Linked DNA regions of Homo sapiens: region 2 is linked to region 1. The links come from fine-mapping of genetic effects on gene expression. Tissue or cell type: monocytes. Region 1 holds a variant in brackets; the other region holds the start of a gene. All regions are shown on one strand. Distances are between the middles of the regions.

The links. PIP is the estimated chance that this variant, and not a neighbour inherited with it, causes the effect.
Region 2: PYROXD1 starts here. The variant in region 1 is fine-mapped to the expression of PYROXD1 in monocytes (Quach 2016, PIP 0.94).

Annotation. Positions count from the first base shown.
Region 1 is chr12:21,470,473-21,478,472 of GRCh38, forward strand. It overlaps PYROXD1 (pyridine nucleotide-disulphide oxidoreductase domain 1), which reads left to right. Exons shown (of 12, transcript NM_024854.5): 12 at 1-778. It overlaps RECQL (RecQ like helicase), which reads right to left. Exons shown (of 15, transcript NM_002907.4): 7 at 7,331-7,497; 8 at 6,439-6,520; 9 at 5,204-5,352; 10 at 4,996-5,113; 11 at 4,369-4,507; 12 at 3,079-3,170; 13 at 956-1,175; 14 at 497-626. Among named protein-coding and RNA genes, the nearest start is that of RECQL, 27 kb to the right of the region's middle. The variant T/C (reference allele first, on the strand shown) is at 3,538.
Region 2 is chr12:21,434,445-21,442,444 of GRCh38, forward strand. It overlaps PYROXD1 (pyridine nucleotide-disulphide oxidoreductase domain 1), which reads left to right and starts at 3,211. Exons shown (of 12, transcript NM_024854.5): 1 at 3,211-3,370; 2 at 5,924-6,004. The coding sequence starts at 3,287. RefSeq lists enhancers at 3,040-3,119, 3,170-3,359.

The DNA.
Region 1 (8,000 bases):
TAGTTTTTTATCTACAAATTTCTATTCAAATATGAGCTCTATTTTGAATAAAAGGGGCTACGTTGTGAGAGAAGTTCTAAAGACCTCAAATGTCCTTAGACACAATGGCACTTGACTTGACATGCTTTTGCAGACTTGATAGTATTTGGTTTAAAACAGTGGTTTCTAACCACTGGAACAGCAGAAACAGACTTCTCAACTATTAGTAATCACAACCAAATAAGAGCAGAGTGCATAACAAAATTAGATATTCAAACGGAGTCCTCCCATTCCAAGAAACTGGAAACCCCTAGTTTATGTTAAAAGGCCAGTCTAAATTCTTTCACTTACATCTTTACAGAAAACTATATTTTCTCTCTTCCATACCCAGAAATCTAATCAGAAAACTGACTTTTCTCATGTTCAACTGGACCTAGGGGAATATGACAGAAAAGCATCCCATAGGCTTTAATATACTTTTTAAAATATATAAAACTGAAAATTAATAGCCATTTACCCTGAAAGAGTTCTGCGTGGACTTTGTCACTTGCATAGTAATAGCATGTGCCTCATTGTTCAGAAGATTAGCTTTAGGTCCTATTTTCAAATACGAAATGGTAGCATAAGCTGTAAAACTGTAGTCTTCTCTGCAGAAAATAAAGGCCAACAATAAGAAAGCTTTTGAAGGAATCACGGAAAACAAATTTATAAAAGAAATAACTATATGCGCAGTAATTCTTAACACATTGACTTGAAATAATAAAATTTACAAGAATGCAAATAAAGCCTTTAAAGAAAATATTTTCGTTACTTTTTTTTATTTATAGTGATTAAAGTTTGAGTGTTTTAGGTAAATTACTTTCTATAGCATTTAAAAGTTCACACAAAATAACTGCAAAACCGTTTATTCTGTTGCAATTTTTAAAAAAAAACCATAAAGACAACCTGAAAGAATAATGAATGAGTTTGTACATACTTAAGATACTGCTGTATTAGAAAGTGTGCAATAATCTTCTCCAGATCTTCACGAGGAAGTGTGGGAGCCACAACACCTGCTACTCTCAGTTTTGCTGCACCCTTTCCCATCCAAGAATCAATCAGTTTCAATGGAGTGAGTTTTTCATTCAGTTCCTCTGCCTGCTTCAGGATCTTGATTAGATCTCTGCAGTACTCTGTTATGTTCTTTCTTTCAAATGCTGTAATAAAACAAATATGGTAGCAGGTAATTAGGATTTAGAAATGAGGGCAAAGATAGGCTATCTTAAGTAGTTAAACTGGTTTAAAGCTGGTTATCAATGTGAGCCACCCTAAACATTGATTTTTAAATGTATTCTGAATTAAGACTAGGCTATTCCTCAAGTCTCTGTCACTAGACCAAGTTATGGTCTCTGTAAGCATTGTGGGGTTTACAGTGATATATATAAAAAAAAATTGGTTATCAGAAGCCCTGCCATATACTCTAGAAATCAGAAAGTGTCTGCCAGACATGATTACTAAGTTACTAAGAGGTGTGTTTTATAGGAGACCCTGTCTGTTCTAGTATAGGCTCCTGAGTGAACTCTGATTTAGCAACAAGAATGTCCTCAACTGATAACCCAATTATTAAGAGACCAGTACTCTGATTTATATATAACACTCTTGTTATTTTATAAGATAGTCTAATAAACTCATAAATTTCTCTGTCTGCAAAGTTAAAAATACAGTGGCTTCCACCTAACAAGGCATCAGAACTCAGTAAGGTCTTACCATGAGGTACTGGCTAGTCCAGATCTTGAAATACAACACACGGATGAAAAAAAGTTAAAATATAGTGCCAAAATGCTGCAGGCAAATCCGAAAATTGGGACTCAGCCCAGGAGGGTTCCCAGTTTCATGCAAGAAACAATCTGAGAGCAAGCCAACAGAGTAAAGTGAAAGCAAAGCAAGTTTATTAGCAATAGAGTATAGGAAAATGGCGGCTCCATAGACAGAGCAGGGCTACCCCAAAGGCAGAGTGGCACTGTACATTGCTCACTAGCGGTATTTATAGCTGCTCCTTAGTTATATGCTAAATAAGGGGAAGATTATTCATGAATCTTCTAGAAAAGGTTAGGGAGTTCCTAGAACCATGTAATTTTCGGGCATTGTCACGGCATTTGTAAACTGTCATGGTGCTAGTGGGAGTGTCTTACATCATGCAAATACATTATATTTTCTAGTTCTAACTTGTTTGGGCCAGTTTCTTTGCTATATCTTGTTTTGACCAGATCCTGTTTTGATCAGCAGGGTTGTGACCAATGCTCAGAAAACAAATCCTGCTGATCTACATTTAAAAGAATTTTAAGTAAATCTCCGATGACTAGCCATTAACTGGATCAAAAGTGATTCTCTATAGTCTCTATTTTGCACTAAATTTTCTTTTCAATTAGTGACTATAAAGTATTAGAGATTATCACATGGTTTCCCTTTTCTTATAGAATAGCATTTCTATTCAGAAAAATTCAAATATTTTCCTTCATTTATTAAAAATTTCACATCCTCAGTATAGCAATATAAAATGTGTGCATACACATAAGACTTTTCCTTTTATTCACCTTTGTTTCAAAACTTCATGTTGATAGTTTTAATTCTGGAAAATCTGATTCACACTTTAATCTTTTAAATCCATTTGGAAGTCTAATACTTCTCTCATGTCCCAGCTGTATATACAGTTTTGTGCCACATAATATTTTGGTCGGTGATGGACCACGTATATGCCAGTGGTCCCAAGAGATTATATAATACCATATATTTTTTTTTGAGACGGAGTCTCGCTGTCACCCAGGTTATAATACCATATTTTTACTGTACTTACTCTATGTTTAGATACACAAATACTTAACCATGTGTTACAGCTGCCTGCAGTATGCAGTACAGTAACACGCTGTACAGATTGGTAGCCTAGGATCAATAGGCTATAACATATCACCTAGGAGACTATACCATCTAGGTTTATGTAAGTACACTTTGATGTTTGCACAATGACAAAATCACCTAGTGATGCATTTCTCAGAACGTATCTCTGTCACTAGGCATTATGACTGTATTAGCCTATAAAGGTTTACAAAACAACAAACTCACCACTGTCTTTACAGCAGTTATCGCACATTTTGTTACATGCTTCTGAGTTCCATACTTCATCAAAATGTTGAGCCATCAACACACGACGACATCTGCAAACACATTTAAAGATACAAATTATTAAAGGATATAATAAAGTTTTAAGAATCTCTATTTCAGCTTACATAGTTATATACTGTATTAGCTTCCTATAACTGCCATAATATTACCATAAACTTAGTGGCTTTAAACACATTTATTCTTACATTTCTGTGGTTTAGATTTAGAAGTGTACTATGGGTTTCACTGGATCAAAATCAGAGTGTCAGGTTCTTCTCACATCACACAATCTAAAATAATCTCCCTATTTTAAGGTCAGCTAATGAACAGTCTTAATTCCATGTGCAATGCTACTTTCCTTTTGCCATGTGAGGTAACATACAGGTTAGGAATTAGGACGTGAACATCTTTGGGGGGCCA[T/C]TGTGCCCCCGACATAGGACTTTTTTCCCCACATATTCTTGATAAACACTGTTTAAAAAATTGTCTGAGTTCCATTTTTAAATTCAATGTTTTGCAACTATTAGGAGAATATTCTTGACAGTAAAATAGTTTCTTATATTTTAATAAAGTAGCAATATTTGAGTTGAAACCTTAAAATATGCTTCATGAGACTCTACTGGCCTTTGGAAGACATTTTCATTTTCTCATTTCTTTTAACTAGATTATTGTAGTATCTATTGGAAAGAAAGAACATTTCTATCACTGTCTGGCTGCTATTTACCACCTCGACATTTCTGAGCACTTCTTATGTGATAGGCAATAAAAGCACAAAGATAACTATGACAGAAAGCTTTCAGGAAGCTATCTAGTCTAAAGCCACCCTAAGTAGATTTAAACTTACTTCTTAAGGAGAAACTTGGTATTTCATTGACACATGAGCTGGCAAGGTGGCACGTTACTGAGCTTGACTCTCAAAATGCCTATCTTAACCATAGACCTTTTCAAAATTATTAAATCATGTAACTGTACAGCAGTGCCAGAGAAAAAAAGCCTTCAAGTTGCTATCAATGTGTCTCAAAAACCTTCAATTAAAAAAGTAGTTTTGGAGGATTATCTCAAAGATAGGGCATCTTTTCTTGAACTAAGGCAGATCATACAGGTTGATGTGCTGGTTCCTACCCTCCAACATCTGCTTTTATGGATCTGCACTTTGGTGTTCCACCAATGTATTTAGTAAGAACTTAAAAACGATGTCATATACTTTCATATTTGCTTTAATTGATAAAAGTTATAAAAAGGTATGTGGCTTACTTGCTTATGTTTTGACAGTATGATACCATCTCATAAAGCTTCTGCTGTCCCACATTTTCCATCACCACCATTGAACTTATTCTGAATATATCTCCAAAGCCGTAGTACAAAATACAGTCTGCTTTCATGTCATCTCGACCTGTGGTGTGAGAAACCTTGAGATTGCAGAATTACATTTACAAATTCAAAATATGCAAAAATGACATATGGTAAAATTAGCAGGCAATGTTTTATACTACATCTAGAAATTTTAGAGATGTGGAAGTTAATTTGTAATGGGTACCCTCAAATTAAAAAAAACTCTAAAGAGACATCAATAATCAGCTCTACTAAGTTAAAAAATGTGTCTATAATCCAGTTAAGTTATAGATTTGAAATCACTAATTAAAAATTCAGGAGGCAAAGATGAACATCAAATTATCTTAACACACATAAAAAGAAACAATTCAGATAACAGAACATAAGTAAAAATTTCTCCATATGCAAGTAAGTGTCAAACTGCTAAAAATACATTGTTCTAAAAATACTATCCAATAAAGATAAAACATACAGACTTATTAAGCATTTATCATGTATTTTTTGGAAAAGCTTTCTAAAAATTTACTTCTGGATTTGAGTCCTACATACCTGCACGTCCACTCTCTTGGTAATAATTTTCCATGGATTTACTCATTGAATGATGGATAACAAACCTCACATCTGGCTTATCAATTCCCATACCAAATGCAACAGTTGCCACTACTACCTGAAATATTTTAACATTTTATCAGTTAATTAAATCAAGTTTAAATATTTTAAAGGTAAATTAGGCTTCTATGGAAGATATAGACCTAACCTGAATTTCATTGGCTGACCATTTTCTATGAACTGTGGTCTTATCTTCTGGCTCCAAATTGGCATGGTAAGCACCTGCATGAATTCCCAGATTCTGCAAACTAACCGTAACTTGTTCAGAGTCTTTCTGAGAAAAACAATATATGATTCCTGCAGTAAAATATGTGCATTTGTTAGATAGATATGGCATATTCCTGGAAGATGGTTTTCAACACACACATTCAGGACATTGATTAATACAATGCACAGAAGGAAAAAAAGAATTATGAAAAATTTCAAGGCCTTGTGCATATATTGACATTTTGGTATAATTCCAGATTTGAGCACCAGCTTCCTTTAAAGCAGAAATGAGCCTGAGCCATCAGTTTTTGTTCCTGTTATCTCTTTTCTCTCTTTAACTTTATCTCCCACTAAACAGTATTTCTCAAACTGATGTCTGTAAGATGCTAACAAATGTGCTATGAATGCAGTGTTCTCCAGATTAATTTTGGGTTAATTTAGATTAATTTGCATGCAAATTAATTTGGAGAACATTGCATTCAACAAAGTTAAATGGGTGTCTCTCTTTATTTTCAGGGATGGTCAGAGCTTCTAGTTTGCTGATACACCCTGTGAACATCCAGGCAGAATAAATACCTGCAACCTTTCTCAAATTCATTTGACCCTAGAACTCCTTTTACCCAGGACTACCTCCTGAAAATCTATAGAACAGTTTAAAATGCTACTTTCACACAAATTCTTTGCTTCAGTAACATTTGCTTAGTCATTAAACCCAGAAAACCATGTATATATACTCACAACTCGATCTGTGCTTAATCTATTCAGTATGTACTACTGGATTTATTTATTGCTTTAACGTGTCCTTTACTGTAAGGGAGTATATTTTCTATCCCTTTAGAATATCAGTTGCTTAATCCACTATTTTGTACACAGTGGATACATACTAAATATGTGCTGTTGATAATTAACATTAAGTCATCAGGTCTATTCTAAAGCAAGTGTAAATAAGCAAAAATAAATCAGGCAATTTGACGACTCATAATCTATGGCATAAGCAAATGTCACACCCAATTTCTAAGATCAAGTGAATTAATTTTATCACGTATTTTCAAGTATCTTCTGCTATACATTAATTTTTTTTGGTGTTATTCAGTTATCAGTATAATTATCAATATGATATGAAGTCACTTTTTGAAAGTTATCTCTGTCTCCAAAGTTGGTTTGTTTTTACATTACCTGATTGCCCTTTGTATCTCCCATTAATGAGCTTTACAATATCCTCAATAAAATCTTCAGTGTTTGAGGGCTTCTGCCGAACCTAAAAAAAACTTAACTTATTAAAAAGTAAATGAATGAGTACCATCCAAGTGGCTGTCTATGTACAACTTTCAGGATGCAGTTCTTTCATGACCATAGTGTTTTTTTTCCTATTACTCTTTCACTTACTCACAGGATTCAACCCATCTGACTCATCTGTTCCTCCTCCCAGACTCTTCTTGATCTTTATTTTTTTAATTTACCAGAGAAGAGCAAGCACATGAGCAGTGAATAACTTGCAAGGATGCAGACTTTTTTATTTTGCGATGCTACTTTTATAAAAACAAACCGTAACATAAATAACTCTTTAATGAAAACTCAGAAAAATATTAAATCTATTCTTAAAAGGGTTTAGAAAGAAAGAAAAGACAGCTGTTAGGTTATTTGATTTTCAAGTTTATCAAATAAAATTCAAATAGAATTGGCAAATCTTTAATGGCATATGAATACTTCTATCACTTAGTAATTAATTTGAACAGAGATGTTATTAGGGTCCTTAGTATCACTCCATCCTTTCTCTCCATCTTTATACAAAAAAGAACATACAGAAATTTAACAAAGATATATGACTTACTCATATGTTTTATAAAAAGTATCACCTAGCAGGTGTCTTCCATTTAATCTAACAAAGGTTTATGTAGCAAAAGATACATGAATGAAGCCCTAATCACAGAATCTACTTATAATTACCTCCTAATGTTAAAAATTTTTGTAAGTACTTAACTGCTCATGTAAATAAACATAATAAAAAGGCAGATCCCCTCTGCGTAATTCTTCACAAAAGTAAGGAATTGACATAAAAATTACATACCTCATAATATAGATTTGGCCTATTAAAAGAAGCTGTAAAAGTAAAACACTTTTCAATGCACAAAATTTTCTGAGCATCCGTCAAAACGTGATTTGTTGCAGTTGCAGTCAGCCCAATTAGTGATGCGTTAGGGAACTGCCGCTTTAAGATACCAAGTGCCTTATAATCTGAAAAAACAAACAAAGTGGCCCTTTTTCTATCCTTTAAGAGTTAGAGTAAATTATATCTTTTAACATTATGCAGATAATCGATGACTACTATGATTTTGTTTCCACAGCCATCTATAGCAGTAAATTTGCAGTTCTGTGTTAGCCTCTTTGATGGGCAGGCTTTATTACGTTTATTTCAGACATTACTCTTGGTCACGGTGGACTCAAGAGACAGTGGGTATAGCCACAGTGTTTTAATTTATTACAACTAACAAAAGATAAAACAGGCCATCAGACAAACCCCTGCTACCACCTAGTGTCATCAGACCAAAAAAATCTTGGTAAGGGCGGCACTGCTTTGTATATAACCTATTTCTCGGAAACCATTCTAGGCTCAAACTTGTTATAAGCATCTACATCACTAGATAAATTGTCACTTAAACTATTTGGAGGAAACTGAAAAAAATGTGGTAGAAATTGCTTACATGCTAAGTAGAGGACTACTATGAAAACAAAGAGGA
Region 2 (8,000 bases), 36 kb before region 1:
GTTATATGAACTAACAAAACAAAGAAGAGGTTTCGAGTGCAAGATGAATCCAGGCTGTACTTACAGCGAATTGGCAAAAACCAAGATAAAAATGAGAAGATATCCAAGATGTTTCAGAAATTTCAGGCTTGAAGATTCAGAGTAGATTGCATGAGAGATAGACATTTGGGAGTTAAAAGCATAATAGGCTTGTTAAGGTTATGATCATAGATAAAATCCTTTAGACAGAGAAACATAGTCTATTCAACAGGGCACAGGCAGGCAACTTAACCATTAATCCTACTAAGAGGCACGCACTATGCTAGGAAGTTTAAATATGTTGCCTCACACATGCATCAAAACAACTCTACAAAGTAGATCTTATACCCGTCTTGCCAATGAGGAAACTAGGGTTCAGATGAGGTAAATAACTCACTGAATGGTCACACAACAAAGAAATGCTGGTGCCACATTTGAACCTAGGTCATCTGACTCAAAAGCTATTAATCACCAACTATGAAATGTCATTATTCATTCCCAATTTTTGCAGTTGAAAATTAACCTCAATACTCCTATTCTAGGCATTTCTGATATCAACTTGAAGAAGAATGGAAGACTAGATTTTGATGGTAGTTTGAAAGTTGGGGATGGCCTTCAAGAGATTAGGTGGGTATGGGAATCAGATGTAACAACATTATGGAGAGAAATAGAAGAAGATAGCTTTATCTCCTTCAGTTTTTCCACATGAATCTTGAACTCCCCAACCACTTTTCTTTCTTTCTTCCCTTTTACCATCTCCTGTATTTCCCATGCTCATTCCTGCTGCTAAGCCTTTGGTTCTTGGGATATTTCCCACATGACTTGCCACATCTTCTTCTGAACCTATCCAAATGCTATGGGCCTTTGAGATTCAATATAAATTCCACTTCTTCTCTGAACCTTTCTTTGCCAAGTCCTGCTTTTCTTTTCCACCCATAAACATACACCATAATATTTAGCAATACACTGGTATTTCTTTGACTCCTCAGAAACAGTCACCAGGTCACTCCTAAGCTTGCTGACCAGAGCTAAAGGGGAGCTGAAGTTCTGTCTTTTCTGCTTCTCTGCTGCTTCCTGGCATTGGGCCTCCCTTATTTCTAGGTGCCCAGTTTTCTTTGCAGTTGCCCTTTCTCCTAACCTGTACCTATTGCTGCCCTCCCTGTGGATAACATGTTTCAAGTTACCTACATCTTACTTTTAACCCACTTTACATCCAGTATATGTATCTAATTTAATCAACATTAAGGTGAGATGCACTGAAAGTTCTTTAACCCTTAGACATTTCTAAAAGTTGGATATTCATGCCAGTGTGGCAGGCAGCTAGGTCTTATCCCTACATCACCTTTGACAAAAAAGCCAGCCTTCACAAGGGGAAGAAAAAAGGAGAGTGTGGAGTCATTACCCCTTTACATTTGAGGAGCCTCCTACTACTTTGCTTCCCCTCCCACAGACGATGATCTCCTTCCGTTTCCCCTGGGAGCTTAAATTCCACTCCATTCTTCCTTCCGACTTCCATAAAGAGGAAACCCCTGTCACAATATACAAGAGGATCCTGACCCTGGACAATGAATCTAAAAATCTTTAGAAGGACTTCAGGGGAGTTTCATGCTCCACCAACTTCCTATTTCGTTGAGCACATTTTTGTTGAATACATACTCCCTACTAAACATTGGAGATACAAAGGGAGACAAAAATAATCCCTGAGATTATGTAAGCAGTTTATGGTGGTGGTGGGGTCAGGCAGTAAGAATTTACAATAAAGTGGGATAAGTCTAAATTTAGAGGATGACAAAGTGCTATAAGAACACACGGAGAGGACACCTAGCTGTCTTGAGGATGTTAGATAAAGTATCTTAAAGGGGAAGCAATGGCTTGATGAAACCAAAGGTTGATGAGTTAGCCAGGGAAAAGTAGTTGGGAAAAAGATATGTGCAAATGCTCAGAAAGAAAATGGCATATCCTGGGATCTGGAAGTGTAGTGTGGCCTGAATGGAACACAGTGTGAGTGAGATAATGTGAAAATAAGCTGAAGCAAGATGAGATCTAAATGGGCTTAAGGAATGTATTTCCTCCTCCTAGAAATGAATGCTTTGTTTGGTTGCTATACTAGTAACAGGAATTAGACACGTTTATTAAACCGCTTACCATTTAACTTGGTAAATCAAAGAACAATGATTTTTACAGGTATCAGTAAATGCCTGTAATTAGATACGTGGTAGGCTTTCCTGTTAATATATAATGGTTATTCTCAGTGTTTAAAGAATTAAAGGGACTCGGGTAATTACCAGTTTTAGAGTGAACCATTTGAGAGATAATACCTTACCATTACAAAACAACTCCTAGGGAAAGTTATATGAGACAGCAAAGGTAATAGTAAATAGTAAAATAATATGAATAGTGAATAATATAGTAAAAACAGTTAAAAATGATTTAGCAATTTCTTAAAAACAATTGACCACGAAAAAAATTCACAGTAAAACCGAGACTGGGAATATTTCATTCAACCCTCACACATGCTGCTATTGACTGGAAATTTAAGAAATGTTCATTTGTTTTGACAAAATGGAAAGCAACTGTACATTCTTCCTGGAAACTTTAGCTGAGGTCAAAGTTGTAAATGAAAAGGATGATTTTTTAGAGAACAATTCAGTAGTATTGTTTTGCCTTGTCATGAAGAATTTTTGTGCTTCCACAAACAAAAATCTTGGATTGTTAGGTGAACGGTGGCAATCAAGTGGTTTTCAGAAGACTCAAGTTTCTTCATCTACAAAAATGACAGGAGTGGGGTCAGGATGTTCCCGAAGGCTCCTTCTACTCATAAGAGCATAAAATCTGTGCCTCTAATTTCTCGCAGAAACAAATAATGAGAACTTCACACCAATTCATTTATTATATGAATGTTTTGTCCCGTGAGAACACTGGTCTATCTTTAGATATGTAATTTATCAAACTTCTTTGGGCAACCCATCTTCTTTACTTTTTTATTTTTAATTTTTTGGTTTTCTCTTTGTCAAATTTTCATGGAATAACTACATTCAGGTGTAGTAATAGTAACGCAAAGCTCTGAACACCACGAGACAATTCGTTGCTTCCGAAACGCAGCCGGCAGCAGGTACTCGAGATGAGTAGTGTGAGCTCCCGAGCACCCGTAGGTCGGATTATCTGGTAAGGCACCGGAAGTGACCGCCTCGCGGCTGCTTCCTCTCCTGGAGTCCAGAGTCCCGTTGCTCCGCCGCGATATTCAGTAAACCACTGGGAGTCCGGCAGCATGGAGGCAGCGCGCCCTCCCCCGACGGCAGGGAAGTTCGTGGTGGTCGGCGGCGGCATCGCGGGCGTCACTTGTGCGGAGCAGGTAGGGCGGTGCTCAGGCGGTTCCGCCTCTTTCCCCGACCCCAAAGGGGATAGCACTGGAGGCCTTCCTCCCACCCCCTCCCTTTTTCTTCTTCCGGGTTCCTTTTTTGCTGCGCCCTTTTCCGCACTTATTGCTCCCAGATTTTAGAAACTGCTTGGTGGTCCTCAGATGACCTCACTAGCTTTCTCTTAGGCGCAGGGAGGAGTGGGAGGCAAATTATAGCCGAGAAACCAAAGCTGGCTGATCCGTGCTCAGATCCTTGTAATGTCAGAGCAGACATGAGGACTTTGTATTTAGACAAAAAATTCAGCCCCCTTTCTTTTTATTTTTTTTTCTTTTTCTTTGAGACGGAGTCTCACTCTGTCGCCCAGACTGGAGGGCAGTGGTGCGATCTTGGCTTAATGCAAGCTTTGCCTCCCGGGTTCAAGCGATTCTTCTGTTGCGTCAGCCTGTAGCTGGGATTACAGGCGCCAGCCACCACGCCCCGCTAATGTTTGTATTTTTAGTAGAGACGGGCTTTCACCATGTTGGCCAGGCTGGTCTCGAACTCCTGGGCTCAAGCAGTCTGCCCGCTTCCGCCTACCGAAGTGCTGGCATTACAGGCCTGAGCCACAGCACCCGGCCCTCAGCCCCCTTTGTTAATTATCGTAGGTGATTGAGTTTAGTTTCCAGATAGTTGCCAAGTCTTTAGTGCATCTTAACTAATTAATAAAGAATCCCATATGTAAGTTTTCTATACTTCGAACTCCCAAGATAGAAGAAACTTTATTTCTAGTAAAGTTTTGTAAAATAATCAGCGAAGGATTAAATGCATGTAGGGCTTGCTTTCTTGATTATACTGAATAGCCAGACCATATATATTCAGATACATGTGTGTATTCCAAAAAGTTCTACATTATTTTGTTGATATAAAGTAAACATGAGCAATCACTGAAGTCATAAGAAATAGTGGAAGAAACTCAAGTGTTTCCATCGTTGGATGCGTATTTTCCGTTTATTCACTAAGTAAACATATATGATGCAGGCACCGTATTAAGGGCTGAGTGTTCAACTATGAACAGCATGGTATATACCATGCTGGGGACTCACAGCCTGCTGGAAGAGACAATATTACAATATTGTATGTCTATGCAAGAGATATCAACGGTTATCTTAGAGGTGCCTGTGGAGTATGTAGGGAGTGAATTAGGGAAGAGGAAATTTTTTTAATCAAAGAAGGTATTTTTAAAATCTCATTATGAAAGAATGAGTGAAAGTTTACCAAGTATTCAAGAAAAGAATGTCATCTCCAGTGGAAAAGCATGGATCATCAGGGAGCAGTAAAGCTTAAAGCATAGATCATAAGGAGTCTTAGCATGCTGAGAACTTAACAAGAATTTACAAGTAGTCAAATGTTTTTGAGCAGTGGAGTAACTTGATCATATGAAAAGGCTTGAAAGATGATTAGTTACAATGTATTTGTGGCAGAGGCAGCTGGTTTATACGTGAAACTGGAGAGCCAATTCGAAGGTGATTTCAGTAGTATAAAGAAGTTTTGAGGACCTCATCTAGCAATGGAAACAGCAGAGATATAAATTACAGAATATACAGAGGAAAGAAAGATGGAGAGAGTAATGATATTGTCAAATATAGAAAGTTCAAATAAAATGAGACTGAGAAGAATCGCATGGGTGTTGGGCACGATAGCTCACACTTGTAATCTTAGAACTTTGGGAGGCCAAGGTGGGAGGATTGCATGAGTCCAGGAGTTTGAAGCCAGACTGGGCAACATGGCAAGATCCCATCTCCATTAAAAAAAAAATAAATAATCCCTTGGATTTTAAGGATTCATAGATCCCTCAAACATGCTGTTTTAGTGATGGAGTAGGAATAGAAGCCAGATTATTGAGGGTGGTGGTGTCGAGGAACCAGACTTTGAGATAAGAAAATGCTTTCAGGTACAGAGTGAAGAAGACCGAGGTTGTAGCTAAAGGAAAATAATGAAACATTAACAAGTTATACCTCTAAATTTTGTGGAAGCAATTATTAAAATGGCTTTATCGTCCCACAATATGTACTGACTGGAAGAGGCAGAATAGGAGTGCCAGAGCACCTGGGGAAAGTTAGACCAATATTCTAAGTGTTTAATATTGAGGGTTTGCTTTAATTTCATCCCATTGAAGACAAATGAAATATTATTTTAAGATAAATAGAAGTTGGTTTAACTGGTAATTAGGAAGATAGTTTATTCTCATCCTCTGCATTATAACTCTAAATTGGTATAAAAAATAGTTGAAGTAAATAAAGGATATTTCTTTATATCACTTTTCTTGTTCAGGAGTTCTTTGTTAGTGTTTACTGTAAATATTATTTTCTCAGTATCAGAGTTTAATATTATTCACCATTGCCCCATCAAGACCAAGGATAATGGAGACCTTTAGATGAGGAACAGTGGGTTTTTAATTTTCTAGATTAATTACATTATTAAAATTGCATTATTCTCAACCCCAAACCATATATACCAGTACTTAAAGTAATTTGTCCTAATTTTTTTTCTCTCTTTTTAAAAATAAGTTGGCTACTCACTTTCCATCGGAAGATATTCTCTTGGTAACAGCTTCTCCTGTTATTAAAGCAGTTACAAATTTCAAGCAGGTAAGAACCTTTGTATAACTTGTTAATATTAATTTGAAAAAATTGCAATAACTTGCATAGCAGTTAGGGTAATTGTGTATTTTTTTCTTTCTTAAAAATTGACAAGTACAGTTATATGCTGTACAACATGATGTTTTGATACATGTATACATTGTGGAATGGCTAAGTCAAGCTATTTAAAATCTTTCCAATTTGGATGCCTTTTATTTCTTTCTGTCACCTAATTTAATTGCTCTAGCTAGGACTTTAGTACTGTGTTGAATAGAAGTTGTGAGAGTGGGCATCCTTGTGTTGTTCTTGATCTTGGAAAAGCTTTCAGCTTTTCTCCATTCAATATATTATTAGCTATAGGCTTGTATATGACCATTTTTTTGTTGTGGTACTTTCCTTCCATACCTAATTGTTGGGTTTTTATTATGAAAAGACGTTTAATTTTGTTGAATATTTTTTCTATATCTGTAGAGATGGTCATGATTTTTGTCCTTTGTTCTGTTAATGTGGTATATCACATTTACCGATTTGCATATTTTAAGCCATCTTTGCATCCCTGAATAAATCCCACTTGATTATGGTGAATTGATTGCTTTTTTTTGAGATGGAGTCTCACCCTGTTGCCCAGACTGGAGTGCAGTGGCACGATCTTGGCTCACTGCAAGCTCCGCCTCCTGGGTTCACGCCATTCTCCTGCCTCAGCCTCCCAAGTAGCTAGGACTACAGGCGCCCGCAACCATGCCCAGCTAATTTTTTGTATTTTTTAGTAGAGACGGGGTTTCACCATATTGGCCAGGCTGGTCTGGAACTCCTGACCTCGTGATCCATCCACCTCGGCCTCCCAAATTGCTGGGATTACAGGTGTGAGCCACCGCGCCCAGCCTGGAAAGTTTTCTGTTGTTATTTCTTTAAATACATGTTCTACTCCTTTGTCTTTCTTGTCTCCTTCTATAACGCCTATAATTCAAAGATTTGCTCATTTGATGCCATCCTTTAATTCCCTACTTCTATGTTCTTTTTCATTCTTTTTTCTTCTTCTTCCCTTCTGACTGTATATTTTCAAATAATCTGTCTTCAGATTCACAGATGTTTTCTTCTGTGTGATCAGTTCTCTTGTTGACATAGTCTGTTGCATTTTTTTTTGTTTCATTCATTGCATCTTTCATCGTCAGAATTTCTGCTTTAGTTTTTAAATAACTTTTTAAATTTTTTGTTTTGGTTGCTTATTGTTTTTCTGATTTAATTGAATTGTTTGTAACTTCTTGAAGTTCCTTCAGCTTCTTTAAACAATTATTTTGAATTCTTAGGCAGTTCTGACATTTGTGTTCTTTTGGTGGCATATCTTCTTGGTTTATCATGTTTCTTACTGCCTTATGTTGATGTTTGCACATTTGATGACACACTTGCTGTTTTCAGAAGTATGGGCTAGTTTTGCTGTGGAAAGACCTTCCCCTATGGGGAGGGCTGCTTGCTAGATGGGATGTAGCAGTTCTGGCACCAGTGAGGGTGCCCACTTTGTAGTCTGTGCAGCTCCGTCAGCTGAGTTAATTGTTGTTGAAGATTGCAGGGATCCTCAGCATCCAACTCTGGATGTCTGCAGTGGTAGTGAGGGTTGTTGGGGTTTTCAATGTCAATGGCTGCTAATAGCCTCCCAATCTTTTCTTCTCCCACAAAGGAAGTTGTGGCTTAGGGGATCCCTGTTGGCACTGAGTCTGCCTTCTGGGTTCAGTGGCAGCAGCGCTGGTGTCTGATAAGTGGTGCCTATGGAGCAGATAGAGCTGAGGCCCAAAACACAGGCATACACGGAGGAATTAAAGTTCTGGGATCTGGGACTGTAATGATATTGGTGCCTAGGGTGCAGGTACCCGTACTGCTATATTGGTAATAGAATATGAGGTGAGGATGCTTGTGAGGCAGCCAGGGAAACCAAGAATGGGAACACATGTGTGCTCAGAGTTACAGCAGCTTCAGTGTCAGGGCAGGGCCTAGCTTTCAATGGCAGCTG